6 separate regions of the Homo sapiens genome follow, and all the other regions are linked to region 1. Evidence: fine-mapped expression QTL. A gene starts in region 1. Each other region holds a variant in brackets. All regions are shown on one strand. Distances are between the middles of the regions. Region 1 holds the start of D2HGDH (D-2-hydroxyglutarate dehydrogenase). Region 2 overlaps D2HGDH (D-2-hydroxyglutarate dehydrogenase). Region 3 overlaps D2HGDH (D-2-hydroxyglutarate dehydrogenase). Region 4 overlaps D2HGDH (D-2-hydroxyglutarate dehydrogenase). Region 5 holds the start of LINC03100 (long intergenic non-protein coding RNA 3100). Region 6 holds the start of GAL3ST2 (galactose-3-O-sulfotransferase 2).

What was found.
Region 2: its variant is fine-mapped to the expression of D2HGDH in whole blood (TOPMed, PIP above 0.99).
Region 3: its variant is fine-mapped to the expression of D2HGDH in whole blood (TOPMed, PIP above 0.99). The same link has a PIP of 0.9 or more in NK cells, T cells, Th1 cells and Th1/17 cells.
Region 4: its variant is fine-mapped to the expression of D2HGDH in whole blood (INTERVAL, PIP above 0.99).
Region 5: its variant is fine-mapped to the expression of D2HGDH in fibroblasts (GTEx, PIP 0.97).
Region 6: its variant is fine-mapped to the expression of D2HGDH in whole blood (TOPMed, PIP above 0.99).

The regions. Positions count from the first base shown.
Region 1 is chr2:241,732,563-241,736,942 of GRCh38, reverse strand. It overlaps D2HGDH (D-2-hydroxyglutarate dehydrogenase), which reads right to left and starts at 2,313. Exons shown (of 10, transcript NM_152783.5): 1 at 2,248-2,313; 2 at 1,427-1,810. The coding sequence starts at 1,718. RefSeq lists an enhancer at 1,247-1,486 and silencers at 1,527-1,636, 1,647-2,696, 2,737-2,786.
Region 2 is chr2:241,768,220-241,772,566 of GRCh38, reverse strand. D2HGDH (D-2-hydroxyglutarate dehydrogenase) reads right to left here. Exons shown (of 10, transcript NM_152783.5): 10 at 3,756-4,347. Among named protein-coding and RNA genes, the nearest start is that of GAL3ST2, 6.4 kb to the left of the region's middle. RefSeq lists an enhancer at 892-1,804. The variant C/T (reference allele first, on the strand shown) is at 2,414.
Region 3 is chr2:241,755,786-241,760,332 of GRCh38, reverse strand. It overlaps D2HGDH (D-2-hydroxyglutarate dehydrogenase), which reads right to left. Exons shown (of 10, transcript NM_152783.5): 9 at 4,319-4,484. Among named protein-coding and RNA genes, the nearest start is that of GAL3ST2, 19 kb to the left of the region's middle. The variant T/C (reference allele first, on the strand shown) is at 2,559.
Region 4 is chr2:241,761,996-241,766,929 of GRCh38, reverse strand. All of the region lies in intron 9 of D2HGDH (D-2-hydroxyglutarate dehydrogenase), which reads right to left. Among named protein-coding and RNA genes, the nearest start is that of GAL3ST2, 12 kb to the left of the region's middle. RefSeq lists an enhancer at 2,033-2,646. The variant A/G (reference allele first, on the strand shown) is at 2,284.
Region 5 is chr2:242,084,903-242,089,836 of GRCh38, reverse strand. It overlaps LINC03100 (long intergenic non-protein coding RNA 3100), which reads left to right and starts at 1,272. Exons shown (of 1, transcript NR_186294.1): 1 at 1,272-2,486. LINC01881 (long intergenic non-protein coding RNA 1881) reads right to left here and starts at 1,204. Exons shown (of 7, transcript NR_130702.1): 1 at 1,036-1,204. The variant A/G (reference allele first, on the strand shown) is at 2,439.
Region 6 is chr2:241,773,040-241,777,973 of GRCh38, reverse strand. It overlaps GAL3ST2 (galactose-3-O-sulfotransferase 2), which reads right to left and starts at 1,152. Exons shown (of 4, transcript NM_022134.3): 1 at 990-1,152. The coding sequence starts at 1,018. RefSeq lists enhancers at 1-477, 478-1,098, 2,340-2,960. The variant A/G (reference allele first, on the strand shown) is at 2,168.

The DNA of each region.
Region 1 (4,380 bases):
ATGCCTGTCATCTCAGCACTTTGGGAGGCCAATGTGAGTGGATCACCCGAAGTCAGGAGTTCGAGACCAGCGTGGTCAACATGGTGAAACCCCGTCTCTACTAAAAATACAAAAATTAGCCGGGCATGGTGGCGGGCACCTGTAATCCCAGTTACTTGGGAGGCTGAATTGCTTACACCCAGGAGGGGAAGGTCGCAGTGAGCCAAGATTGCACCATTGCACTCCAGCCTGGGCAAAAAGAGTGAGACTTCATCTCCAAAAAAAAAAAAAACGGATAAACGGTCTTTGCAGATGTAATTAAGTTGACAGTACTGAGATACGATCATCCTGGATTAGGGTGGGCCCTCAATCCAATGAGAAGTGTCTTTATAAGACAACTGGAGAAGAGTCACAGAGAAGAAAAACCTGTATGAAAAACAGAGGCAGAGACTGGAGTAATTTGGTACCTGGGGCCACCAGGAGCTAGAGCTACAAGAGGCAGGAAGGAGCCTCCTCTGGAGGCTTTGGAGGGAGCGCAGCCCTGTGATACCCTGATTTCACACTTTTGGCCTCCAGAGCTTAGAGAACAAACTTGTGGGGTTTGGTGGGGAGGGGAATTCTGTTTTGTTTTAGAGATGTAGTCTTGCTCTGTTGCCCAGGCTGGAATGCAGTGGTGAGATCATAGTCCACTAAAACTGGAACTCCTGGGCTGGAGTAACTTTTTTACTTTTTGTTTTTTCAATCCTGGGCCGGCTACTTTTATTTATTTATTTTTATTTTTAGAGGTGAGTGGGGCGGGGGTTCTGGCTATGTTGCCCAGGCTGGTCTTGAACTCCTGGCTTCAGCCTCCAGGGCAGCTGAGATTACAGGCAGAGCCACTGCGCCAGGCAAACTTGGGTTGTTGGCAGGGCGGGGTGGCTCACGCCTGTAATCCCAGCAATTTGGGAAGCCGAGGCGGACGGATCACGAGGTCAAGAGATCGAGACCATCCTGGCCAACATGGTGAAACCCTGTCTCTACTAAAAATACAAAAATTAGCGGAACGTGGTGGCGGGCGCCTGTAGTCGCAGCTACTAGGGAGGCTGAGGCAGGCAAATCGCTTGAACCCGGGAGGCAGAGGTGGCAGTGAGCCGACGTCGCGCCACTGCACTCCGGCCTGGCGACAGAGTGAAACTCCGTGACTGCACTCCAGCCTGGCGACAGAGTGAGACTCCGTCTTAAAAAAAAGAAAAAACAAAACAACAACAACAACAAAACTTGGGTTGTTCTAAGCGACTCGTTCGTGGTCATTCATTCCAGCAGCCTGTGGCGGTGCACACGCCCCTCTCAGCGCAGCCAGGGGCTGGCACCCCCATCCAGGTTGTTCTCAGCCCGCTTTGAAGCCTCCACGGGAAGGCGCAGCGGAGCAGGGACGCGGAAACGCCGCAGCTTCCCAAGCCTCACCCACCTCGCAGCGTCCGCAACCAGTCCACGTTGGGAGCCTGCAGCGCTTCCGGGTCCGTGACGACCCCGCCGGGCACGATGCGCTCAAAGGCGGCCAGGTCCTGCTTAGACACCGTGGAGAACGGCAAGCGCCGCACGGGGTAGCGCTCCCGGGTCAGCGGCACCTCGGGGGTCCCCGGGGCGGAGCAGCAGCCTCTGCGGGCCAGGGGGCCAACCGGCCGACCCCAAGAACCCGCGGCTCCCGGAGCACCCCGCAACAGCCACGCGGGCCACGCCAGAGGCCGACGGGGCAGCATCGCCGCCGGGACGGAGACCTCGGGCTCCTCCTTGGTGGGGGGCCGGTACTCAGGGCCCGGAGGGGAAGGGCAGGGAGCCGCTGGCTGCGCGCCTGGAAGTGGCCAAGGGTAATTTCATGTTTTATGCACGTTGTACAAATTGAAACACGCTTGCAGAAGCAGGGAGGGGGCAGGAGGGCAGCGAAGGGAAGGCTCCGAGCACCCGGGCCCTCCCCCTGCCCGGGCCGCAACCCCGCGAGCGCGCGAAGCCCCACGCAGCAGGCCTGGACTTAGCGACGCGCAGGCTCGGGGCGGCCTCGCCGGGACCTTGCCCAGGACCCCGTTCCTCCGAGCTCGCCCCCCGAGGGGATCCCGCGGACGCGCGCGCGTGTTCCACGCGGTCACGTGACGAGCTGCAGCGCCGTCCCCCTCCCCCCACAGGCACCGACTGGCTGACGGCGCCCGAGATCGCGCCCCGCCACCCCGACCCGCGGCTGAACCGCAGACCGGGACCCTCAGCCCAGCGCTCCGCGCGGCCGCGCGCACGCACCCACGATCACGTCCCGAGCTCCAACCCGCAGCGCCCGCCGCAGGCCCAGAGCCGCCGAGCCGGAGTGGGCGGGGCGACGCCGCGCCTGCGCATTGACGGCTCCGCCCAGCGGCCGAAGCCCCGCCCCGCGCGCCTAACGGGCCCCGCCCCGCCTGCCCTCCAGGCCCAGCCCTGCGCGCCTACAGTCCCCGCCCCGCCGTCCAAGCCCCGCCCCGACTGGCACCGGAGGCTCGACGGCCACCGCCTCGTCCTGCGTTTCCTGAGGGCCTCCGGCGCGCCGGCTGTCGGGCGCATCCCTCCAGGTAGAGAAGGGACTAGGCTGAGCGCAGCCCAAGACGCCCAAGCAGCAGCTGGAGGGTTCTCCAGAACGAGGCCCGGGACGTGGGCTCGGCCGAGGGACCTGGGGGCCGGCCCGCTCCTCCGAGGCCGAGCCCAGGGGGCGCCCCTTTCCCCAGCGGCCTCCCCAGCTCCTGCACGGACCACCCCTCCTGGGTCCCCAGCCTTAGCTTAGGGGGCAGCTGCCTCCTGCAGGTGTTTTCTTGCCTCCCTGTCCCTTCTGCCTGTTCAGCCCTCCGTGCCCTCAAACCCTTTGCACACCTGGGGAGCTCCTGCCCTCCTGACGCAGTAACTGCTGTCCCGAGGAGCCTCCCGGCCTGGGATCCCCTGCCTGAGGCATCGCCAGCACTTGTTTTGTGTTTTTTTGAGACAGGGTCTAGCTCTGTTGCCCAGGCTGGAGTTCTGGGGTTGATCTCAGCTCACTGCAACCTCTGCCTCCCGAGCTCAAACCATCCTCCCACCTCGGCCACCCAAGTAGCTGGGACTACGGGCGTGCACCACCACACCCGGCTAATTTTTTGTTGTTGTTGTATTTTTGTAGAGATGAGGTCTCATGTGCTGCCCAGGCTGGTCTCGAACTCCTGGACTCAAGCGATCCGCCCGCGTCGGCCTCCCAAAGCACTTGTTACTTCAGCTCACCCAATTCCATAGAACCCTAGCGGGTGCAGAGGATGCCAATCTCTGAGCAGATGAGGGCAGAGAGCAGGAGACCACACTTGGCCCGAGGCAGGACTGCGGAGCTGTGCAAGAGGTGGAGGCTACGCCCGTGACAGCAGATGGGTCCTGGTAGTCACACAGAAAACCGGCGAGCTGGATTTGTCCTGGTGATGAGGCTCTGGAGCAGCAGTTGCAAGGAGTCATTCCTGTCCTCCTTAACCACATCCCCAGAGGCCACTCACCTTCTTCCCAGGTGAATCATTCATACAACCCTGGAAAGGAGACATCCACCTGGCCCTTCCTACCTGGCTGGCCCTTGCTCTGCAGATGAGTGTGGGAGTTTGCCCATTGTCAAGGGTAACTGTTGCAATTACACATTCAGGAACTGGAAAGACGACCACAGATGAGGTCTGTGGACCCCCTTACCACCTGACCTCCACACGCCCTCCCTTTGACTAGCAGGCCAGTGGCATCTTGGACCCCTGGGATTAGGAATGATTCAAAACCCATAAAGATTACCACCCATACCATCCCCTAAAATAACTGATTTTTCTGACCAGGCACGGTGGCTCACGCCCATAATACCAGCACTTTGGGAGGCTGAGGCAGGTGGATCACCTGAGGTCAGGAGTTCGATACCAACTGTGGGCGGCAAGCCACCCAGGTGCCGAGGCAAGAGACCGAAGACACGAGCTGTTCCAGTATAATAAAATAAGAATAGTTATACCAGATATAGATCTTAGATATGATTATATATGAATATCATTAATCATTAGTTGGTAGCAATTACTCTTTATTCCAATATTATAATAATCCTCGCTCTACAATCATAACCTAGGAAAAACCAGGCCATACAGAGATAGGAGCTGAGGGGACATAGTGAGGAGTGACCAGAAGAGTGCGAGCCTTCTGTTATGCCCAGACAGGGCCACCAGAGGGCTCCTTGGTCTAGCGGTGACGCCAGCGTCTGGGAAGACACCCGTTACCTAGCGGACCGTGGTCTAGCGGTAGCGAAAAGTGTCAAGAAACACCACCCGCTACTTAGCAGACCGGAAAAGGGAGTCTCCCTTTCCCCGGGGGAGTTTAGAGACGACTGTACTCCTCCACCTCTTGTGGAGGACCTGACATCAGTCAGGCTCG
Region 2 (4,347 bases), 36 kb before region 1:
ATAGAGATGATCATGGACAATTATCAATCATTATTATAAACATTATTAATCATTAGCTTTTAATATTACTCTTTGTTGCATTTCATACTCCTCCTGTACTCCTGGTTCCTCTTTGAAGTTCGTAGCAGATAGCGGTAAAACAAATAGTGAAAGTCTTAAAGTCTTTGATCTTTCTTATAAGTGCAGAGAAGAAAATGCTGACGTTTGCTGCCTTCCGTCTCTGCTTCGGCTACCTAAAAGGGAAGGGCCCCCTATCCTGTAATCACATGACTTACTTCACCTTGTCAATCACTGAGAAGATTCACCCTCCTTACCCTGCCCCCTTGTCTTGTATGCAATAAATATCAGTGGGCCTAGCCCTCTGGGACCACTACTGGTCCCCGCGTCTTGATGGTAGTGGTCCCCAGAGCCCAGCTGCTTTCTCTTTCTCTCTTTATCTTGTGTCTTTATTTATTACAATCCCTCATCTCCACACACAGGGAAAACACCCGCTAAGCCCCGTAGGGCTGGACCCTACACCTCCACACTGCCAGGATCCTGATGGACGTCCTCAGGGGCCTGCGGCGTCCCAGGAGCCCCAAACCCCAAACCCTTCCTCTGGGCTCTAAGTCCACAACTGTCAGACACCTCTGGGTCCCAACCACTTGCCCTTCTGCTTACAGGAAACTGGCTCCCCCAGGGGCTCTCCCAGGGGCCAGCCGTCCTGGGGGAGGGGAGGGGCGGGCACTCCACTCTCCCTGGGGCTGAGACCACCCGGCCCACCCCTTCTCCCCTCTCCCCTGCTGTACACAGGCAGCTCTGGCCCTGCCTGGGGCCCCTCCCACCACTCTCCTGGCCCCCTCCTTGGCCTCAGCTCAGGGGCCCTGGTTGTGTAACATCTTCTCAGATTGCAGCAGCTTAGAGGTCTTAATGTGACAATCACCAGCTTCTAATCCGAACACAAAGGCCGCCCCTGAGCACCCACCCCGCCCCGACGACCCTGGCTGGAGCCGCTGCAGAATTCCGTCAGAACCCGCCAGGCCGGAGCTGCTGCGGAAGGAACGGGGCCAGAACCCGCCTTCCTCCCCACACACGTGCTCCTCATTGCTCTTTCCGCGTGGCTGCAGGCCTCGTCAGAGCCTCCGGCTGGGAGGTTGGGACGGCGTGGAATTCTCTGCGCGTCTCTTACACACACCTGACCACGGACACTCAACGCCGTCACATGGCCGTTGGGGGAGCTGTCTCCGGGGCACCAAGGCTGGTGGCCTGCCTCACGCAGATTCGCCGCGTTCTCCTGCGTCGGAGTCACTCGGAGTCTGTGTTAACCCGCGGGCTGCGAGAACACGGCCTGCCTGGATGCGATCGGGTCTCATCAGATTTTCCTGCTGTCAGGTAGAGAAATCTAACAGGTTTCCGGCTTGTGAAAACTCCTGGCCTCCCAGCCACCACGCAGTGTGGGTTTTCCTCATGGCAGACAGGCAGTTCTTCGGGCCAGCTCGGGCCAGCCAGGTGTCTCACCGGCACCTGCTTTGCCTGGCTGTGTTGTATTTCACATATCTAAAGGCACAAAAGAAAAGCCTGAGGGGGATCTAAGAAGCCCCTCTCCCCATTGCTGGATAAACTGGAGGTGAACATGGCAGGGCAGGGCAGCAGCGGAGACGGCAGGACCCAGCCACGGAGCTCCAGGAACAAGTGCCCACGGCTGGCAGCAGGGCTGTCATGGGCAGGACGTGCCCGGCACTGGCCTGCTCCGGCCCAACGGTCACCGCAGCCTCCTGGAGCCGGACCCCCAGGGAAGAGCAGCCGCAGCCTCTTCCTCCTCCAACAGTCCTGGACTGTGTCCGCTTCCCCAGTCCCCAGAGGCCCAGCGGAAGGCAGTGTGGATGCAGAGGTCTTGCTCTCCCAGGGTCCAGAGGGCACTAGGGGGAGGAATTCCTCCTCCCCCCTCTGCAGGCACTACCAGCGGGTGTCCCTCAGCAGGCAAGGCCAGGCCTCTGCAGCCCCACAGCCCATGCTGAGCCCAGATCCTCACGGGAAGCCCGGGGCTCTGGGCTTTTCCCTGTCACCCGGCTGGCCTCTCCAACAACAGGAGTGAGCATTTAGACCACGACCAGGGCCGGAGGTCCTTAGGAAAGCAACGGACCCCAGCTCTGAGAATCACAAGTCCCTACCCAGGGTGGGACGTGGGGTCGTGCGGCCAGCACGGGCAGAAGCTTGAAAGCCCCCAAGTCACCCCTGGGCCAGCAGCAGCCACCCAGGGCAGGAGGGCAGGTGCACAGCCAGGGTCAGCGGGTCAGCAACTCACCCTGGCCTGCAGCCTACCCAGCACGGACCATGTGCCCAGTAGCAGAGCTAGAGGAACAAGCAGAAAAATGGCCGGCCCCCAACCAGAGGTCAGAGGGAAGGGCAGGAGCCGCCGGCTGACCTCGGGGGA[C/T]GCGGGCACACGCTGTGGGGCTTCGTGTCAGGCACCCATGGGGCCTGGGGTCTGCTCTGTGCAACAGATACTGTCGGGCTGCCCATGGGTACCCAGCCTGGGATGGCAGAACAGTGGCCAGAGCCCAGGGACAGAGCCGGGCCTTGGCCAGTGAGGCAGGACAGCCCCAGGTGCCCCCAGGCACAGCAGGAAGTAGCCCAGGCATTGGGCGGGACCCACTGGCTCTGCTGGGCCAGCATGAAAGTGCCCCTGATTTGTGCCTTCAAAGCATGCTGGATCGGCTGGACGCAGAGGCTCGGGCCTGTAATCCCAGCACTTTGGGAGGCTGAGGTGGGAGGCCGCTGGAGGCCAGGAGTTCAAGACCAGCCTGGGCAACACAGGGACACCTCATCTCTACAAAAAAAAAAATTTAAAAATTATCTGGGCATGGCCGGGTGCGGTGGCTCATGCCTGTGATCCCAGCACTTTGGGAGGCCGAGGCGGGCAGATCATGAGGTCAGGAGATCAAGACCATCCTGGCTAAGAAGGTGAAACCCCATCTCTACTAAAAATACAAAAAATTAGCCGGGCACGGTGGTGGACACCTGTAGTCCCAGTTACTCGGGAGGCTGAGGAAGGAGAATGGCGTGAACCCGGGAGGCGGAACTTGCAGTGAGCCAAGATCGCACCACTGCACTCCAGCCTGGGTGACAGAACAAGACTCTGTCTCAAAAAAAAAAAAAAAAATTATCTGGGCATGATGGCTCACACCTGTACTCCCAGCTACTCAGGAGGCTGAGGTGGGAGGATCACTTGAGCCCAGGAGGTGGAGGCTGCACTGAGCTGTGACTATACCCCTGCACTCCAGCCTGGGTGACAGAGTGAGATCCTGTCTCAAAAAAAAAAAATCATGCTGGACCAAGGCCCCCACCCATCCCCCGAGGACCTCCACCAGGAGGACGTGGCCTGTCCACACAGAGGCCCTGGCTAGGCAGGCGGGCTCTGCAGGGCAGCGGGTCAGAGGTATGTTTCCCCCTCTGAGCAGGATCCGAGGTCCTCGACACCCACAGGGACAGGAGGGGCCCGTGGATACACCTCGGTCAGGCCCAGCTGCTGAGGGCCTCCAGGGCCACCAAGGGTTATGAGTTGCCCGTTCCATGTCCAGGCCTGCCCTGTGCAGCCGGTGGGAGCTCAGCTGCCACCAGACAGTGCATGGGGACAGGAGGCACAGTGACAGTCACAGTAGTGTCAGGCCCGGCCACACTATGGCCCCAGTGGTCCAGGGGCTGTGGGAATGGGATGCACAGGCCCTTCACAATGGGCTCTGAAAGATGATTTTCCAGTAACAGAAGCAAAGAGAAGGTTGCAACCAATTCAGATTTTTACTGGACATTCATGACAGAATGAGATGTGCATCCAGCTGCATCGCCCAGCCCATCCGCTGCCCAGGGCAGCTGACGAGCAGAAACACACTCTGCAGTGGCCCTTGTCCGTGCCGGGGCCCTCGCCCGCAGCACCGCACGTTCTTTGTAGGAGCAGAACCCGAAACTCAGAGCACAGCTTGCCCTGATAACTGTCTTCCCAGCTGGCAGCCCTCTAGAAGATGTGGGAAATGACACATTCCTGTCCAGACACAAGCCACAGTCACCCCCCTCCCGAGGGCGTCCACGGCCTGAGGGACCCGGCTCCATTCAGCAGAGCCGCAGCGCTCAGGTCCTCTCGGCAACCCACGATCACGGCCCACGTGGTCCTGCCCGTGCCCCCGCTGCCCACGCCCCCTGCTGCCCACGCATGCCCCCCGCTGCCCACGCATGCCCGGGGAACGAGCAGCAAGCAGGCAGAACCACCACCCAGCGCCTGCTCCCCAGGCCGCAGCAGGCAAGATGGGGCCAGGGGCCACCACGCAAGTGAGACCCACCCCGCTTCCACGTGGGCAAAGCTGCCGCCACCCCGGC
Region 3 (4,547 bases), 23 kb before region 1:
CTTCGACTGATTGGGTAAGGCCCACCCACGCTGTGGCGAAGTCCTTCGACTGATTGGGTAAGGCCCACCCACACTGTAGCAAAGGCCTTCGACTGATTGGGTAAGGCCCACCCACGCTGTGGCGAAGTCCTTCGACTGATTGGGTAAGGCCCACCCACACTGTAGCAAAGGCCTTCGACTGATTGGGTAAGGCCCACCCACGCTGTGGCGAAGTCCTTCGACTGATTGGGTAAGGCCCACCCATGCTGTGGCGAAGGCCTTCGACTGGGTAAGGCCCACCCACGCTGTGGCGAAGTCCTTCGACTGATTGGGTAAGGCCCACCCACACTGTGGTGGGAGATCTCCTGTACTCAACGTCTACTGATTTAAATGTTAATCACACATAAAAAATATCTTCACAGAAACATCCAAACTGGAGTTTGACCAAACGAGGGTACCAGGGCCCAGACAAGTGGACGCAGAGAATTCACCATCACACATTATTTGGGAGGAAGATAGTGACTCTGATTAACCTCAAACCCAGAGGGCTAGAAATGTCCACTGTGGTGCCAGGGCGACCACCAACAGTTAGTAAACGGCAAAAAGCTAAATGACAAAGAACATAAACCAGAAGAGCAAAAAACAGAGGAAAAAATAGACAAGAAGTGAGAGACAAAGAGCAGGGTGAAGTAGACAAATCCAAACAGTGGGCCACAGCACGTGCTCAGCAGCCAAACGCTCTCATTCAAGACGGCAAACAAGTACGCAAGAAACCTGTCCGGGGGCGTCCACAAGAAACACATCTAAATCACTAAGGATGGAAAAGCTGAAGCTAACCGGAGGAAAAACAACACATCAGGCAAACACTAAATAAAAGAAAGTTAGCATCACTGTGTAATAAACAAAGCAGACACCAAGGCAGCGGGCAATGCTGGAGATAAAGAGCGAGTCCATCGCGTTAGGAGATTCAGTTTCCCAAAACAAAGAGACGAACCTCATGTCCTATGCCCCTAAGAACACGTCTCCAGAACTGGCAAAGCTACAGGAGGAACAGATTAGTCTGTTGTCAGCAGATTTCTAACACCTCCCTCAGGGAGTGGCAGGTCAGCAGGATGTAGAATGAACACGCGACGTATACTTCTATCTGATGGATCTGTACAAACACTGATTCCAGCAACTGCAGAGAGCACATTCTTTTCAAGCACTCCACAGTTACGAAGGCTGATCATAAGCTGCCACTGATCAAGTTTCAAAAATCTGATCTGATAAGGACGAAGTTTCCTGGGTATAATGCAATAAAAAAGAAATCAATAATTTTTAAAATAACTAGAAAACCACCACGTTTGGAAATTAAGAAACACACTTCTGCATAACTCATCGGTCAAAGAAGGAATGATAATGCAAGCAGCAAATAATGCCAGGCACAGTACCTCACGCCTGTAATCTCTGGCTTTGAGAGGCCAAGGAGGGAGCATTTGCTTGAGGCCCCGGAGTTCAAGACCGGTCCGGCCACACAACTGGCTCTACATGAGTCTGGCTCTACACACACACACACACACACACACACACACACACACACACACATATATTGTGGGGCGGGGGGCGGTATAGATCAGATGTCACTGTGTTGCCCAGGCTGGTCTAGAACTACTGGACTCCAGTGATCCTTCCAGCCTTGGCTTCCTGAAGTACTGAGATTATAGGCGTGAACCACTGCACCGGGCCTACAAAAAAATTTTTTTTTAGTTAGCCAGGCCTGCTGGTGTGTGTGAGGTGGCGGGCCTGCTTGATCCCAGAAGGTCGAGGCTGTGGTGAGCCACTGCACTCCAGCCTGGGTGACAGCGAGACCCTGTCCCCACCAAAAAAAAGGGTGTGGGGGCATCCCACAAATGCTACATAAAAAGACAACAAAAGAATATTCGAACAACTTTATGCCAATATGGGAAAAAATTAGCAATACCAATCTAGAAGAAAGGAAAGCTTGAAAGTCCTAAAGCTATTGAAGAAGCTGAGCTATAATTTTAAAATACTCCCTCAAAAAAACCTCCAGGCCCAAACAGCTCCACTGGCAAGTTCTGCATAATATTCATGTTATGATTTTGATACCAAAATCCAGCATGGACAGAAGAAAGGAACAGCGTGGAACAGAATCATCCACCAAGACCCCTGTCAAAATCCCACACCAAACATAAACAAACTCATCCAGCAAGATACAGAAAGGATCATGGCCACCTTGGGCCTACCCCAGAAACACAGACTCATCTGACTCCAGAGGGATCAATCAGTGTAACTTACCACACTGATTACAGGCAGACAAGCACCCGGTCACCATGACAGATGCAGGAAACACATTTTAAAAATTCAACATTCATTCTTGCTTTTTTTTTTTTTTTTGAGATGGAGTTTCACTCTTGTCACCCAGGCTGGAGTGCAATGGTGCAACCTCTGCTCACTGCAACCTCCGCCTCCTGGGTTCAAGTGATTCTCCTGCTTCAGCCTCCCGAGTAGCTGGGATTACAGGTGCCTGCCACCATGCCCAGTTAATTTTTTGTATTTTTAGTAGAGGCGAGGTTTCATCA[T/C]GTTGGCCGGGCTGGTGTCGAACTCCTGACCTCAGGTGATCCACCCGCCTCAGCCTCCCAAAGTGCTGGGATTACAGGCATGAACCACTGCGCCTGGCCCATTCTTGCTTTTACAAAGTAACAGAGGGCTCATTCCATTTCTCACCAAGATGGTCTGCTTTATCTGTGGCCAAGAGAGACTGAAGTTACCTGGAGAGGAGGAAGCCTCCTCCTGGCTTGAGGTCATATTCTGAAATATTGGGGATCCCGTACCCCTCTTCTCTGGATGATGACACACTCATCATGCCCTTAACCCCTTCCCATATTCTGAAATATTGGGGCTCCCGTACCCCTCTTCTCTGGATGATGACACACTCATCATGCCCTTACCCCCTTCCCATATTCTGAAATACTGGGGCTCCCGTACCCCTCTTCTCTGGATGATGACACACTCATCATGCCCTTACCCCCTTCCCATTCAGGAGTCCTGCCTTCCTATCACAGAAGATTACCATCCATCCTATGTCAAATCCTCCAGATGTACCCCTCCACAGGCTGGGCAACTTTGGGCAAGTTACTTAAATTCTCTGAACCTGTTTACATGTGTGTAAAAGGGAAGCAACACCACCAGTCCTAAAAGCTGTTGTGCAGAGAAGTTTCTCCACATCAAGTGCTTAGAATAATGCCTGGGACAGCACGGGACCTTCGTAAGTAATACGTGTTATTGTCGTCACGTACACAACCCTAGACCCTCCTGTAACCACAGAGGTGGCACCTGAATCCCATTTACTGGCAGATGGATGGAGGCTTCAGGTCAGTGACTCCAGTGCCACCAGGCCAGGGAAGAAGCCAGAGTGAATATCTGTCAGGCCCCAAAGCCATGCTCCACACCCCCAGCACTGCCCCCACCCCTGCCCTATAAGCTGGCCTTTTAGACACCTCGCTCCAAGGCTCCAAAGAACTGACAGGAAAACAGCTGGGCACGGTGGCTCACTCCTGTAATCCCAGCACTTTGAGAGGCCGAAGTGGGCAGATCACCAGAGGTCAGGAGTTCAAGACCAGCCTGGCCAACATGGCAAAACCCTGTCTCTACTAAAAATACAAAAATTAGCCAGGCCTGGTGGTGGACGCCTGTAATCCCAGAGACTCGGGAGGCTGGGGCAGGAGAATTGCTTGAACCCAGAAGATGGAGGTTGCAGTGAGCCGAGATTGCGCCACTGCACTCCAGCCTGGGTGACAAGAGTGAAACTGCGTCTCAAAAAAAAGAACTGATAGGATTGAAACATTTTCTTCCTATGAATTAATAGCTTACACGTTAAAGCATGATTTTTCTGCAGAAAAAAGATGATCTGAACGTGGTTTTGAAATCCTCCCATCTGAAGGGGTAGAGCAGCTGGGGGCTAAGCACTGCAAAGGCCTCGGGGCCGGGCCCTGTGAGAGGAGCCCCTGAGACCCGCATCCCGGACTCCGGGGTTAAGGCTGATGCCCTCCAACCCTGCATGCCACTGAAGATCCCAGAACGTTCTGACAAGCTGAGCCATGCGCTCTGCCATTACAAGTGCACGATGGCAGTCTTTTCCAAAATACTCAAAACGAGTCATGACAACGATTAGGATTTTCCCTTCCCTGTCAGACACCGTGGTCCTGCCAGTGTCTACGGGAGATATGCTAAGCCAGAGACCATGGTCAAACTGCCCTGCCTCGAAGCCTGGCAGGGTGACGGTGACCGTGGGGCCCACCACCCAGCACACACAGGGCCGCGGCCCCGGGGCGCCGCTCACCAAGGTGGCCATAGCCCACCACGTGCTTGGCGTGCGGGCCGAGGCGGGCGCGCAGGTCAGTCACGATGTCGTAGAGCCGCTCCACAGGGAGGGAGAGGTCGTACTTGTACACGTAGCCATCCCGGCTCAGCGCCTCTGTGATCCTTTCCCTCAGGGCCCACAGCATCTAGAGGATGAGACGAGATGAGACAAGGGCTGGCTATGGGAACGACACCCGGGGACAGGGGGC
Region 4 (4,934 bases), 30 kb before region 1:
AGCCCGGGGCTCCCATCTCCCCAACTTCTCCCCCCTCTTCCTACTCCCTCAGCCCGGGGCTCCCATCTCCCCAAGTTCTCCCCCCTCTTCCTACTCCCTCAGCCCGGGGCTCCCATCTCCCCAAGTTCTCCCCCCTCTTCCTACTCCCTCAGCCCGGGGCTCCCATCTCCCCAAGTTCTCCCCCCTCTTCCTACTCCCTCAGCCCGGGGCTCCCATCTCCCCAACTTCTCCCCCCTCTTCCTACTCCCTCAGCCCGGGGCTCCCATCTCCCCAACTTCTCCCCCCTCTTCCTACTCCCTCAGCCCGGGGCTCCCATCTCCCCAACTTCTCCCCCCTCTTCCTACTCCCTCAGCCCGGGGCTCCCATCTCCCCAACTTCTCCCCCCTCTTCCTACTCCCTCAGCCCGGGGCTCCCATCTCCCCAACTTCTCCCCCCTCTTCCTACTCCCTCAGCCCGGGGCTCCCATCTCCCCAAGTTCTCCCCCCTCTTCCTACTCCCTCAGCCCGGGGCTCCCATCTCCCCAAGTTCTCCCCCCTCTTCCTACTCCCTCAGCCCGGGGCTCCCATCTCCCCACCTTCTCCCCCCTCTTCCTACTCCCTCAGCCCGGGGCTCCCATCTCCCCAACTTCTCCCCCCTCTTCCTACTCCCTCAGCCCGGGGCTCCCATCTCCCCAACTTCTCCCCCCTCTTCCTACTCCCTCAGCCCGGGGCTCCCATCTCCCCAACTTCTCCCCCCTCTTCCTACTCCCTCAGCCCGGGGCTCCCATCTCCCCAACTTCTCCCCCCTCTTCCTACTCCCTCAGCCCGGGGCTCCCATCTCCCCAAGTTCTCCCCCCTCTTCCTACTCACTCAGCCCGGGGCTCCCATCTCCCCAAGTTCTCCCCCCTCTTCCTACTCCCTCAGCCCGGGGCTCCCATCTCCCCAACTTCTCCCCCCTCTTCCTACTCCCTCAGCCCGGGGCTCCCATCTCCCCAACTTCTCCCCCCTCTTCCTACTCCCTCAGCCCGGGGCTCCCATCTCCCCAACTTCTCCCCCCTCTTCCTACTCCCTCAGCCCGGGGCTCCCATCTCCCCAACTTCTCCCCCCTCTTCCTACTCCCTCAGCCCGGGGCTCCCATCTCCCCACCTTCTCCCCCCTCTTCCTACTCCCTCAGCCCGGGGCTCCCATCTCCCCAACTTCTCCCCCCTCTTCCTACTCCCTCAGCCCGGGGCTCCCATCTCCCCAACTTCTCCCCCCTCTTCCTACTCCCTCAGCCCGGGGCTCCCATCTCCCCAACTTCTCCCCCCTCTTCCTACTCCCTCAGCCCGGGGCTCCCATCTCCCCAACTTCTCCCCCCTCTTCCTACTCCCTCAGCCCGGGGCTCCCATCTCCCCAACTTCTCCCCCCTCTTCCTACTCCCTCAGCCCGGGGCTCCCATCTCCCCAACTTCTCCCCCCTCTTCCTAATCCCTCAGCCCGGGGCTCCCATCTCCCCAAGTTCTCCCCCCTCTTCCTACTCCCTCAGCCCGGGGCTCCCATCTCCCCAAGTTCTCCCCCCTCTTCCTACTCCCTCAGCCCGGGGCTCCCATCTCCCCAAGTTCTCCCCCCTCTTCCTACTCCCTCAGCCCGGGGCTCCCATCTCCCCAAGTTCTCCCCCCTCTTCCTACTCCCTCAGCCCGGGGCTCCCATCTCCCCAGGCAGAGAGCGGCCACCTGAGTTACCGCATGGCCTGCCACTGCCTCCCTCCTGACCTGGAAGAGTCCAGACCGTCTTCCAGTCTGTATCCCCAGCACCTGGTCGGATGGAGGGGTCCGCAGTGGCGCCCAGGGCAGCTCTATCTGGACGCCCCCACCCCCATGGGTGTCGCCCCTGGAGCTGCCCAGCCAGTGCCCACTGCAGACAAAGTCCTGGCTCCCAGCTGCCTCCTCTCTGGTCCACTTAGCCCACACTGAGCCCCCAGGGCAGCAGCTCTCCAAGCACACCCTGGCCCTGGCCCGCCCCACGCACAACCTCCTCTTCTGACCTCAGAGGTCAAGAAGGCGACGGCTCAGAGAAGAGGCTGGGGACAGCCAGGGTCAGAGTGAAGTGAGGACCCCGCCCCACCTCCGGGCCAGCAGGAGAGGGAGCCAGAAACCAGCTCAAGGGCTGCCCAGACAAGGACAGCGGCTTTTAACGCAGAGCTGCACACCGAGGAGGAGCTCCAGAGGCAAACCAGGACGCACCACCCCAAACTGTGCCATGTTGGGGTGAGGGCTGTTTTCCCACAAAGGCAACTGAGAAGCGGCAGATCCAAGGAAAGCTCCCCC[A/G]ACTCAGGTCCTGCCTCAGAGCGGCACAGGAATGACTGACAAGGGCAAGGCCCCTCCCTCCACCAGAACCGACAAAGGTCGAGGCAGCTTCAGGCCCTGCCGTCCTCTGCCAGCTCCCTGCCTCCTCCGAGATGCCACCTGGAGACTCATAGTCCATGTCCTGTCATGTGACATCCCTAAAATTTGACTGTTTGTTGAAGACGCCACGTGGGCCTGAATTCACAGCCAGCTCTTTGAGAATCACTCATTCCCTGGCCACTCCCAAGTAGACGTGAAACATGCACGTCATGAGCCTCTGTTATTTCTCCTGTTAATCTGTCTGTAGCTGCAGGGTCCATCCCAGCTGGGAACTAGAAAGGGTAGACAGAAAACTATTTCTCCACCCCTACGAGAACAAACCCCAGGCAGGGAGTACAGCAGGGACCCCTCCCACAGTCCCCGTCGCCCCCCAGTCCCCGCCCCTCCCACAGTCCCCACGGATGCGTGCTCAGGCCAGAGAGGGCTGAACACATCCCCTGCCCGGGGACTTGCCCAGGAAGGACTGGTTGTGAAAGAAGAAAAACCACATCCACAGAATATGTTCATTTGGTTTTGTTTTTTTGAGACAGGGTCTCCCTCTGTCACCCAGGCCGGAGGGCAGTAGAGTGATCGTGGCTCACACTTCAACCTCCTGTGCTCAGTCAGTCCTCCCACCTCTGCCTCCTGAGTAGCTGGGACTGCAGGCATGTACCACCATGCCTGGCTGATTATTTTTTTTGTAGAAACGGCGGGTGGTCGGGGGTGGGGGGCCGGTCTCACCATGTTGCCCAGGCTGGTCTTGAACTCCTGACCTCAAGCAGTCCTCCCACCTCAGCTTCCCAAAGCGCTGAGATTACAGGTGTGAGCCACGTGCCTGGCGTCCACAAAGTATGTGAATACAGTCACGCTTCATAACAACGTTTCACCCAACCCCGGACCACAGAGATGATGCTGGCCCCATAACATTAAAATGGAGCTGAAAAACTGCCATCACCTTAATGACGATGTCACCATGTTGTAGCACAATTACTTGTTAATATCAGTTTAGTGTGGCCTCAGTGTGCAGCATTTATAAAGTCTAGAGTAGAGTACGGTCATCTCCTAGGCCTTCGCAACCCCTCACGCTCACCCACTGCCTCGCCAGAGCAACCTCCAGTCCCGCGAGACCCACTCGTGATGGGCACCCCAGGCAGGTGTGGCATTTTTACCTTTTATACCATACTTTTACGGTCCCTTTTCTAGGATTAGCTTTTGTGTTCAGGCACATACTCAGCATTATGTCACAACTGCTTCCGGCATTAAGTGGATGACAGCTGTGGTTTGTCACCTAGGGGCAATGGCTACACCACACAGCCTTGGTGTGGAAGAGGCTGTCCCATCTGGGTGTGAGTGCCCTCCGTGATGCTCACACAAAACGAAACCACCTAATGACACATTTCTCAGGACGCATCCCCATCATTCAGCAACACCCAACTGTATTCCCGAGCAACGGCGGCCTGCACCCGGAACTCACGCTGCCTCGGGTCCCAAAGGCTGAGAATGTGGAGATTAAAGAGGTTCCGGGCGGGGCCCCAGGCCCTCACCCTCCCCACCCACTGCAGAAGCAAACCACCTCCCCTGCAGGCCTCAAATAATTCCTACAGATAAAAATCTAACGAATATGAGCTCATGCCAAAAATCACACACACAAGAAGACAAACCACCACGGCTAAGGTCAGAATCAGACCCACAAACACCTCAGACGCTGTCATTTCCAGACACAGAACACAAACGTGTCATGTGTAAAGAAATAAGAGACAAAAATATAAAACCAAAAAATCTGACCAAGCAATTTTTAAATATCCACGCCAATCTTCCGGAGATGAAATGCATCATGGCTGGCCTGTGGACCTTAGCAGACAGATCTGACGGCCGATCACACACGGCAGAGAACGCCAAGCTGGAGACACTGCAAATAGCATCCAAACCTGAGAGGCGGGACCCTGGCAGCAGCCGATAAGAAACAAGGGGGCTTGGACTGAGTTCCAAGAGGAGAACAGAGGAAGGGGAGAAACGGTGTTTGAAGAGGCTCTGGTGGCTGAGGAATTTCTAAAGCCAGCAAGACCCCAAAGCCCAAGAAGTGCCAGGCAGGTAAACACTCACCCGGCCAACAGGCAGGTAAACAAACACTCATCTGGCCGACTCCCGGCCAAACCAGAGTGAAACCGCAGAACCCCAAAGACAATGGAAGGAGCTGAAAGCAGCAAAAAGGAAAAAGCAGGCTGGGCGCGGTGGCTCACACCTGCAATCTCAGCACTTTGGGAGACTGAGGCGGGTGGATCACGAGGTCAGGAGTTCGAGACCAGCCTGGCCAATATGGTGAAACCCCATCTCTACTAAAAATGCAAAAATTAGCCGGGTGTGGTGGCACACGCCTGTAATCCCAGCTGCTCGGGAGGCTGAGGCAGGAGAATCGCCTGAACCCGGGAGGCGGACGTTGCAGTGAGCCAAGATCGCACCACTGCACTCCAGCCTGGGTGACAGAGCGGGACTCCATCTCAAAAAAAAAAAAAAAAAAAAGGAAAAGAAAAAGAAAGAAATTATTTATTTCCCTCTGTTCCCTCCATTCCCCCGAAGGGAACTGCCCTGAACTG
Region 5 (4,934 bases), 350 kb before region 1:
AGGACTTACAGATAATCACAGATTCCTCATGGGAAAGGTAAACATGTAAAGACGAGGAGAAAACAGAATATGAAAGAGTAAACGTCTTTTTTGATTAGGGCCGGATGGTAAGGATTTGGAGGCAGCAAGAGACAGCTTCATAAGGGAAGAAATGGTTCTCTAGATTCTTTAGTCTTCAAAATGAGTTTGAATAGACCCAAGGACAGAGGTGGAATCTAATTGAGAAAAAGGTCAAATTGAGCTTACTGTGAGGGGAAGGATGCAAAATTAGTGTCTGCTGCAAGAAAAATAAGCATGGAAAGAAATTAAGGGAGGAGACAGAGACAGAGCCAGAGCCACAGACCAGGAGTAGGGAAAAAAAGGTAAGCAGCAGACGGGGCAGAGTGGCCTGGAGGAATGAGGGGTCACACCTAGCAGGTGCCCACCGGCGAAGAGGCAAGGGCCGAGCCCGGAGGGCAAACGCCGGCAGGAGTCGTCCCCGAAACACCTTGCCCAGCGAGGCGGACACAAGCTCGGGCCTGCAAGACGGCCCAGGAGGGTGGGGGCGGGAAGGGGTCGCAGAAGGTGGGCAGGGGAAGCGGCTGAGGACACGCGATGCACCTGTGGGCGGTCCCCGTGCCCACCTGACTCGCCCGCAGCTCCCTGAATGAACCCTCCACACCCGCCGGCCGCCCCCAGACCCCACCTGACGCGCCCGCGGCCCATCGTCCCTTCCTGACGCGCCCGCGGACCCAGACCTCAGCAGACGCGCACGCGGCAATCCCGTCCCCATCTGACGCGCCCGCGACAACCCCGTCCCCACCTGACGCGCCCGCGACAACCCCGTCCCCACCTGACGCGCCCGAGACCCCCGGTCCCCACCTGACGCGCCCGCGACCCCATGTCTTCCCCTGACGCGCCCGCCGCCCCCGGTCTTCACCTGACTCGCCCGTGGCCCATCGTCCCCACCTGACGCGCCCGCGATCCCCAATCTTCACCTAAGGCGCCTGCGGCGCCCAGTCTTCACCTGACGCGCCCGCGGCACCCCGTACCTACCTAGCGCGCCTGCAGCCCCCAGTCTTCACCTGACGCGCCCGCGTCCCCCAGTGCCCAACGGGCGCGCCTGCCACCTGGGCCGGCACCTGACGGCGACCAGGCGATTATTGCCGGAAGTGGGCCACCGCCTCTCGGCGCGCCTCAGGGAAGCCCCGCCCCTGGCCATGCTGATTGGCCGGCGCGGATTCGCGTGGCAGTGTTGCTGCCGGGTCCTGACGCCCGCAGCGTGCGCCTGCGTAGTAGGCACTGCCCCGCCGTCCGCGCGCGCCCAGAGTGCCGGGCGTGGAGGTGTGGGGGCGCGGGGGCGCGGGGGCGCGGGGGCGCGGGGGGGCGGGGGCGGGGGGGCGCAGGGACGGGCGCGGTCAGTGCCTGAGATCCCTGCGATCGCTGGGAGATGACGGTGAAGACCTGAGATTTAGGCCTGCGCGGCGGGTGACGACGCCGGTCCGGGTCTTCACTGGAGGACGCTGGCCGGGGCCTTCAGGTGTTCTCGTGGCCTGAGGACGCGCGTCCCTGAGAATGTGCGTGCCCGCGCCGCGCGGGTCCCACAGGAGCCTGGGCAGCCCCGCCGCCGCATTTCCACCCTGCGGCCGTATTTCCACCCGCTGGGCGCCAAGCCCGGGATGACTGCACTCTAGGGCATCACTGCGCGCTCACACTCAGCATTCAGGCACAAGCACGTTCTCTTTATAAACAGTTTCGAATCTTGTCGAGTCTTTCTAGAAGGTTGAAATGCCCTGGAGGAGCAGCGTGAATAGTTTTTTCCAATTAGGAAAAAAGAATGTGGGGCGGCTGGAGGGAGAGAGGCAGGCCGAGAAGGCCAGGTGCGTCCAGGAGCCGCAGCCCCCGTGCCTCAGTTTCCTCCTAGAAACATGGAGGTGGCGGTGCACGCTACAGGATTTCTGTAAGAACAGATGAGTTAACGTGTGCAAAACATTTAAAACAGTGTCTGGTGTGTAGCAAGCAAATATGAGTATTAGTCTTTTCCTTGTTAAAATGTGTGCATCTACATTTGGTGCACATTACAGGAAGTGTATAGTATGGATTCATATTTTGGAAAAGTAATTTTAGAAGTTATTTCTGATGTGCTTATTGTAATAGTGTTTCTTGACCACATGCTTTTAGATAATGTGAAGGCAATGAAGCAGGCAATATTGCTTGCACATCCCCAATTTAAACACCTGTCTGTCCCTCCTTCCCTCTCTCCTTTCTTTTCTTCCTTACCCTCTCTCTTTATTCCTTCCTTCATTCCCTTCAAGGTTGCGGATTATTCCATTATATAAATGTATCAATTTATTAGAATAGTTTCTATGATGTCTATGATGGGCTTTAGATTGTTTGCAATAGTTTGCCATTACAAATAATGCCCAGTAGTGCTGTGGTTTGATTTAACTTGTGAAGGT[A/G]TATTTCCAAATAAATCGCTATGATTGGATTGTTGTGTAAACCAAAAAGTGTCTGAGGCAGATCACAACTGATATAGAGGTTTATTTTGCCAAAATTGTGGATTTGCCTGGGGAAAAAGAAACACAGGTTACAGTAGGATTTTTGGCCTGTACTTTTTTCCAAATATTTAAGGGAAAAGCGCCGGTAGGAGGGGAAAGAGGGGAGAGTAGGCTATGAGGCAAGTGGTCACATTTTTGTGAGGCTCTGATTAGAGTACAGCAAATCTACATTTCACATGTGAAAAGAAAGGTATGGGGGAGGGTTATACATCTGTCTCATACTCAGTAGATCTACATTTCACATAAGATAAAGTAAGCTTTTGGGAACAAAAAGAAGGCATGTATGTGTGTGTGTGTGTGTGTGTGCGTGTGTGTGTGTGTGTTGCCAATATTAACTTTTCCCTTTGGCATAGTAAGTTTGGAGGCCTGAGATTTTATTTTTCTTTCACTGATGTGTCAAGATTAACTGCATATGGAATACTAGTAGAAATTGCCAAGCCAAGACCCCACCACCACAATAGGGGACATAGTAATATTAAATTTAGCCCAATTGGCCAGCATCCACACAATTCCTAGTGAAAGAATTCCTGGCTGGATGGTAAAGAGGTAAACTAACTGCAGAAACTCACAAAGCAACAAAAGAAGTCCACAGAATAAGAGCAGGAATTCAGAGAGTAACCACAGAGAGATCCACAGAGTAACAGCAGGAATTCACAGAGTAACAGCAGAACCCACAGTGTAACATCAGAGCCCACAGAGTAACAGCAGAGCCCACAAAGTAACGTCAGAACCCACAGAGTAACAGCAGAGCCCACAGAGTAATGTCGGAACCCACAGAGTAACACAAGAGCCCAGAGAGTAACAGCAGGACACACAGAGAAATAGCAGGAACCCACAGAGTAACATCAGAGTCCACAGAGTAATATCAGAACCCACAGAGTAAAAACAGGACCCACAGTGTAACATCAGAGCCCACAGAGTAACAGCAGGAATTCACAGAGTAACATCAGAACCCATAGTGTAATAGCAGAGCCTACAGAGTAACAGCAGGAACCCACAGAGTAATAGCAGGAACTCAGAGTAACAGCAGAAACCTACAGAACAGGATCAGAAACCCATGGAGTAACAGCAGGAAGCCATGAAGCAGTTCTGTCCAACTTAGGTCAGCATATTCATGGTCTTGGGTCTTCTTTGTGTGTGCTTTCTACCAGGACTGGGCTTAGCTCTGTGCTTGTGAAGAGTAACCCACTCAGTGCCCTCTGAAATTTCGCCACTGGAGGAGGAGAAAAACCCCAGAGGGGCGGGGAGAAACGCTTTTCAAAACACATGGTGCAGCTGGAGATTGTGGTGCAGTTGCCCAGGCAGAAGGCTCGGCAGGGGGAAGTAGTGACCAGGAGGGAGGTGCCTCCTTAACCACAGAGATTTTTTGGCAACCAACTTATTGAAAAATCACGTTTTAAAATTTTCTTTAAGTCAAACCCTACAGAACCTAAGGAGCTGGCTCCTCCTGGCAGGAAGCTGGGAGAGTGCTGGTCACAGTGCACCAGGTGCCCCCTGCCTCACAGGGGCTTAGGGTGGTGGTGAGCACAGGGGCCCCACGCTTCTCCAATGCACACCACACAGTCGTCTCCTCTGACCTTCCCAAATGCTGCACGGACAAGTGTTTGTAGTCCCTAACTCTCAGGACAATGTAGACTTGGTATACCTTCGGGCACGGGGAATCCCATCCTTCTTCCTGTTCCTGCCGCTCTGAAGCATGTGGTGTATGTTTAATGGGGATTTTACACAATATGGGAAGACCACTTCTGCTTTCTATGCAGTGATAATACTGCAATAAGAAAAAATGAACCAAGCCACCAAAACAAAACAGTACCACCTGATGCAGAACTAGGAGGGAAACACAGCAGTGTCTCAGAGCTAATGCAGCAGCCAGGCACCACGACGGTGTCATGGGTACAAGGAGGAGGTGTCTCAGAGCTAATGCTCTGTGCTGACAGCAGCCAGGCACCACGACGGTGCCATGGGTACAAGGAGGAGGTGTCTCAGAGCTAATGCTCTGTGCTGACAGCAGCCAGGCACCACGACGGTGTCATGGGTACAAGGAGGAGGTGTCTCAGAGCTAATGCTCTGTGCTGACAGCAGCCAGGCACCATGACGGTGCCATGGGTACAAGGAGGAGGTGTCTCAGAGCTAATGCTCTGTGCTGACAGCAGCCAGGCACCACGACGGTGTCATGGGTACAAGGAGGAGGTGTCTCAGAGCTAATGCTCTGTGCTGACAGCAGCCAGGCACCACGACGGTGTCATGGGTACAAGGAGGAGGTGTCTCAGAGCTAATGCTCTGTGCTGACAGCAGCCAGGCACCACGACGGTGCCATGGGTACAAGGAGGAGGTGTCTCAGAGCTAATGCTCTGTGCTGACAGCAGCCAGGCACCACGACGGTGTCATGGGTACAAG
Region 6 (4,934 bases), 41 kb before region 1:
CCCGAGGGCCTTCGGCTGCAATGCCTCCCATGTCTCACCCACAGAGTCTCAGCTGGGGTCAGGCACACCCGCCCTGGCCGACCTCGGGGGGCCCCAGGGCAGCCAGGGGGGCCCTAGCTTGGCCACCAGCTAATCAAGTGAGCCTGATTCCCCAGCCCCTGGGCCTCTTCTTCACAATATGGTCACAATGTCCACAGGAGGGGGCATCTAGGATGGTCCAGGCCAGGCAGCCGGCCCCACACCTCTCAGCCCTGTGACGGGGTGTCCTCAGCCAGTGTCCTGGCAGCTGGTCTTAAGTCACCCCTTAAAGGAAGGTAACTGAATTCATGGCGGCACACGCCCCGGGGAGGCAGGGACCTGCCAGCGCAGGGACGGCTTCAAACTGCCCTGGAATCACCCCAAACAGGATGGCGAGCAGGAGAAGGAAAACGCAAGGCATCCTTAGCCACACCCACCACCCCTCCAAACCTAACTGGGAAGAAATCCACCTCCCCTCTGTTTACAGAAGGGAGACAGCACAGCAGAGCCCAGCCTCCCCGTCACCACCCAGAGCCCCGGGAGCATCCTGAAGCGCACGCATGACCAACGCTCCAGCAAGCGCCTGGCACTCCCACCAACACGGCCCAGCCATGGGCCTGAGCCGCAGACCGAGGCTGGGAGGTCCCAAGCCCAGCAGGTCTCACCCTCCCCAGCCGTCACGCGGACACTCGAGCGTCTCCACGCCACAGTGTTGGGGGGCAGCTTTCTCACTGGGCCCCACATCCCAGAACCCCCAAACACCCAGAAGCAGCACCAGGCCTGGGCAGGAGGGGCCCCCTACTTCCGAAACGAAGCCAAGACAGGTGAATTCAGGGAAGCCTGAGTAGGAACAGCCTCCAAATCCAAGTCACTTCCTTCGAAAGACAAACAAAACCCACTCCTGTCCGTCTCTCAGAATAGCCACAGATGAAGCGCTTTGTCCACCTGGGGGGTCCAACTGCCCCCCTTACCTCTGCAAGCCGCCCAGCATGGACATCATCTTGGCCTCTGGCCTCCAGCGAGGGGACAGTCGAGGCTTGAGCTCCCCCGAGGTCCCACCGCCTCGGCCCCTGCCGGCTCTGGGCTCCCCAGGGTGCAGGCACAGGCAGGGTGCGGCTGTGGGGCAGGTGAACTGGAATCCCCAGAAGCTCACCTGCCTCCTGGGACGGGAGCCACGCCCTCTCCCCGCACCTCCATCGGAGGGCTTGGTTTTAACTGTTCTGTTCTCGGGAAGAACTGGCTGAGGGAGTCTGGGGAGCCCTCGATGGGCCCCTGTGTTCCCCAGGCCCTGGGAGGACCTGCCTGGGGCCTACCCCTGCTCCCCTGCCCCACCCTCAGTGTCCATCCCCCCGGGGGGCTTGGAGGGAGCTGTCCCCACAAGGGACGGGCTTGGTGGGCTCCAACAGCACAGCGACGGCTTCTGGACTCAGAACTCAGGACCTGACGCAGACGAGAGGGCAGAGGGCCCTGTGGCCACTGCAAGGATGAGCGAGGAAAGCTCAGCCCAATTCCCAGCTTCCTCCCCCTCCTCGTCCTCCTCTTCTTCCTCCCCCTCCTCCTCCTCCTGAGCCTGCTTCACACCAAAAGAAAATCTGACTTTTTAAAATCTTGGGCTGGACAATAAGTTTGAAACAGGACATGGAGGTGGAAAATAAATATAAATATTTGTTTAGATTTTACTGCAAGAAAGTTCATTTCTCTTTTCAGGAAATAGATATTAATTCCGAGACAAGCAGCCAGGGAAATGCTGCAACATTGTGACCAGGCGCTACAGTGAATCCACAGGAAAACGCAAATGCTCCTCAGAGCTACGGGCCACGCGCCATGAGTCACCACCACCCTCGCCACATCCCACCAGCGCTGGTGCCCACCATGCCCTCCGACGCCAAGCTCTCCACACGGCTGGTCACCTTCCCACAACCCCTCCCTGTCGGTGCCAGCTGAGCCTGGATTCCGGGACTGGCCCCAGCCCAAGGCAGCCTCCCTGCCCTAGCCAGTGCCTGGCTCGGATGGGTGCAGGCCCCATAGCCATGGAGGCAGAAACAAGGCTGGGCTGAGGGGCTCAGAGGAGGGGCCGAGCACACATGGACCTCCCTGGCATCAGAGACCCTGGGCTGGGCGGCTGCTGGCGAAAGGCCCAGAGACCCCC[A/G]GCCTCCCTTCCCCATTTACCTCCACCTGCAGCCCAGGGGCCTGGCATCTCCGCCCCCGCCTAGGCATCACCCTCCCAGCTGCTCTGTAGACCTCCAGAGCCCGAGTCTGTGGGAGGGGCCAGCAGAGCAGCTCCCGGTGCTAACGGCAGGTGGGAGGGATGCCGGGGCCTTGCTGGCACGGCTGGGCAGCTCTCCACCGGCGTGCCCTGCATCCTCCGCATTCCACTATCCAGAGACATCCGTGTGGGTGTTCACTCCACCATTAAGGAGCCTCCCTGCTGCTTCCTCCACCCACCCTGCCCAGGGCACCACAGGCTCAGCCTAGGAACAAAGAAGATGGCGCCTCATGGGTCCTTACCCCAGAATCACCTTGGCCGAGCCATGTGTTACAAACGGTGGGGCCGGTGGAGAGCAACCTGCCAGGGACACACGCCTGAGGGTCACGGCCAGGCACCTCCCTACACACGCCTGAGGGTCACGACCAGATGCCTCCCTCCCAGGTCAAAGTCCCCAGCTCTCCAGATCCCAAGTGACTTATGGGGCCTGAGCAAGAAGTGTGGGCCTGGGCAGGGGGTCCTCAGCCACCAGCCACCTTCACCCCCTGCTGGGGCAGACAAGGGCAGTGCAGTGTGGTGTGGAGCGGTGGTCCCAGCCCCAGGCTGGGAAAGGGACGGAGGCCCGGCGGCCAGAGGGAGGAGGCTGCCTGTTGCCAGTGGGGCCCTGCTGGGAGCCCCAGGGAGTCAGGGTGTCTGCCCGGCCCCAGCTCCCCGCTAAGAATCAGCCGCTCTGGCAGCCTGCCTGGTCCACGGTGACTCAGGAACACCAATCAAATGCACACGTTGTTTGTCAGAGCAGATGCCCACGCCCCCATGGCAGAGCCCTAACCCCTGGGGTGCGGACGGGGCTGGCTGGAGGCCCCTCAGCTGCTTCGAGTAAGGGACAGGTCCACATGCCCAGGAACCCGCCTCCATCGGCATTGGCATTGCCGTGCCCATGTGCTCCAGTGTGTGGCCTGGTCCCACTAGGAGGGCCACACCCACCAGACCCAAGGCCGGTGGGGAGCAGCTGGGGAGCAGCCGGGAGCAGCCGAGAGCAGCCGGGAGCAGCGGGGAGCAGCCGGGGAGCAGCCGGGGAGCAGCCGGGAGCAGCGGGGAGCAGCCGGGGAGCAGCCGGGAGCAGCCGGGAGCAGCCGGGGCGCACGCACGTTACCCTCTTCAGCCGACACTGCAGGCGGGCGGGCAAGCCCAGGGCCACCTCGGGGCAGGGGCAGGGGTGGCCTAGCTCAGAACAGAGCAGTCAAAGGATGGAGTCAGCTTCTAGGTCTCAGATCCCGGGTCCGGGGCTGCAGGAAGGAAGTCTCCTGCCCCGGGCAGGCAGTGGTCGACTGTGGGCTGGGCGCTGGCAGGAGGTGGGGGCCCTACAGAACTCCCGGCCAGTCCTTCACCAGTCCAGGGCCACCCATCCGCCCACGTCCACAGAGGGCCGAGGCCACAGCCCCCAGCACTGTGCTTTGAAGTGGGCCCTGCTCCACGGTCTCTGCTTTCCGGAGTCAAGGGGCAAACCCTCACCACCAGGAAGAACAGGTTTCACCCCTTCCACCGGTGACGCTGAACACCCCTGGCCGCTGTGCATCCCATTCCCTCCCTGTCCCCAGGGCCCCAGGGCCCCAGGGCCATGGAACCCGGAAGGTAGCTCCAGGTGCCACACACTCTGCCAGAAACAAAGGGAGCATCACCTCGCTTCCTGGCCTCTGTTTGCACAGCCGCTGGCACAGGGCCTGTGGGGAGGGGCGAGGCAGGAGCCAGGAGGCCGTCTGAGGACCTGCCCACAACCCAACAGGACCCCAGCCCTGTCAGGCCGCACCCGGGCACACCCAGGAGGCACCTCCGTGCCCGTCCGCCAGGCCGGGCACTGTTCTAGAAACTTCACAGCAACTCTTGATCTCCCAGAAGGGCAGGTGGGGAGACAGGGCCCATGCTCCCTCGAGAGGATCCCCCTCTGGGGGTGGGTGCAGGAGGGCAGAGCCTTTGACTGGGGCTGCCAGGACCATGACCCCCACCAGCCCTTGTGGCCTCCTGGGTCCTGCCCTGGTCTGTCCTCCCCACACCCCTGAGGTCCAAGGGGCAGTGCTGGGGAGCACTGCCAAGGGCTTGCGCCCGCCCTGGGTCTAACCGGCTAACAAAGCGAGGAGGGGCCCGTCCCGGGGCCTCAGCCTGGGAGCAGACAGCCGCCCCAGCTCCTTGCCTGTGGGGTCCAAGGAAAAGTGAGTGGGAGGGCTCAGGTCTGTGATGTTCCACCAGGAGGAACCCGGCCCAGGGCCTAGGTGTCAGGAGGGCTCTCCTAAGACAGCCCCGAGCTTCCCAGCCCCTCCACCTGCCCCTAACCCTCAACTCAGGCTCCTGGTCCACCCCAAGGGCCCCCAGCCCTCCCCGTCCCAGGCAGCGCCACATTCTAGCAGCTATTTGCTCTCGGCCTCCCTGACCAGCTCCTTTTTATTTTTCCAGAGAGGGTCTCGCTCTGTCACCCAGGCTGGAGTGCAGTGGTGTAGTCACGTGGGGCTCCCCACAGCCTCGACCTCCTGAGCTCAGGCTTGTCCCTCCTCCCCTGTAAGAGCCTCCTGTAGCTGGAACTCTAGGTGCATGCCACCACGCCTGGCTATGTTTAATTTTTTGTAGAGGCAGAGTCTCACCATGTGTGCCCAAGCTCTTCTCAAACTCCTGGGCTCAAGCAATCCTCCCACCTCGGCCTCTCAAAGTGCTGGGATTC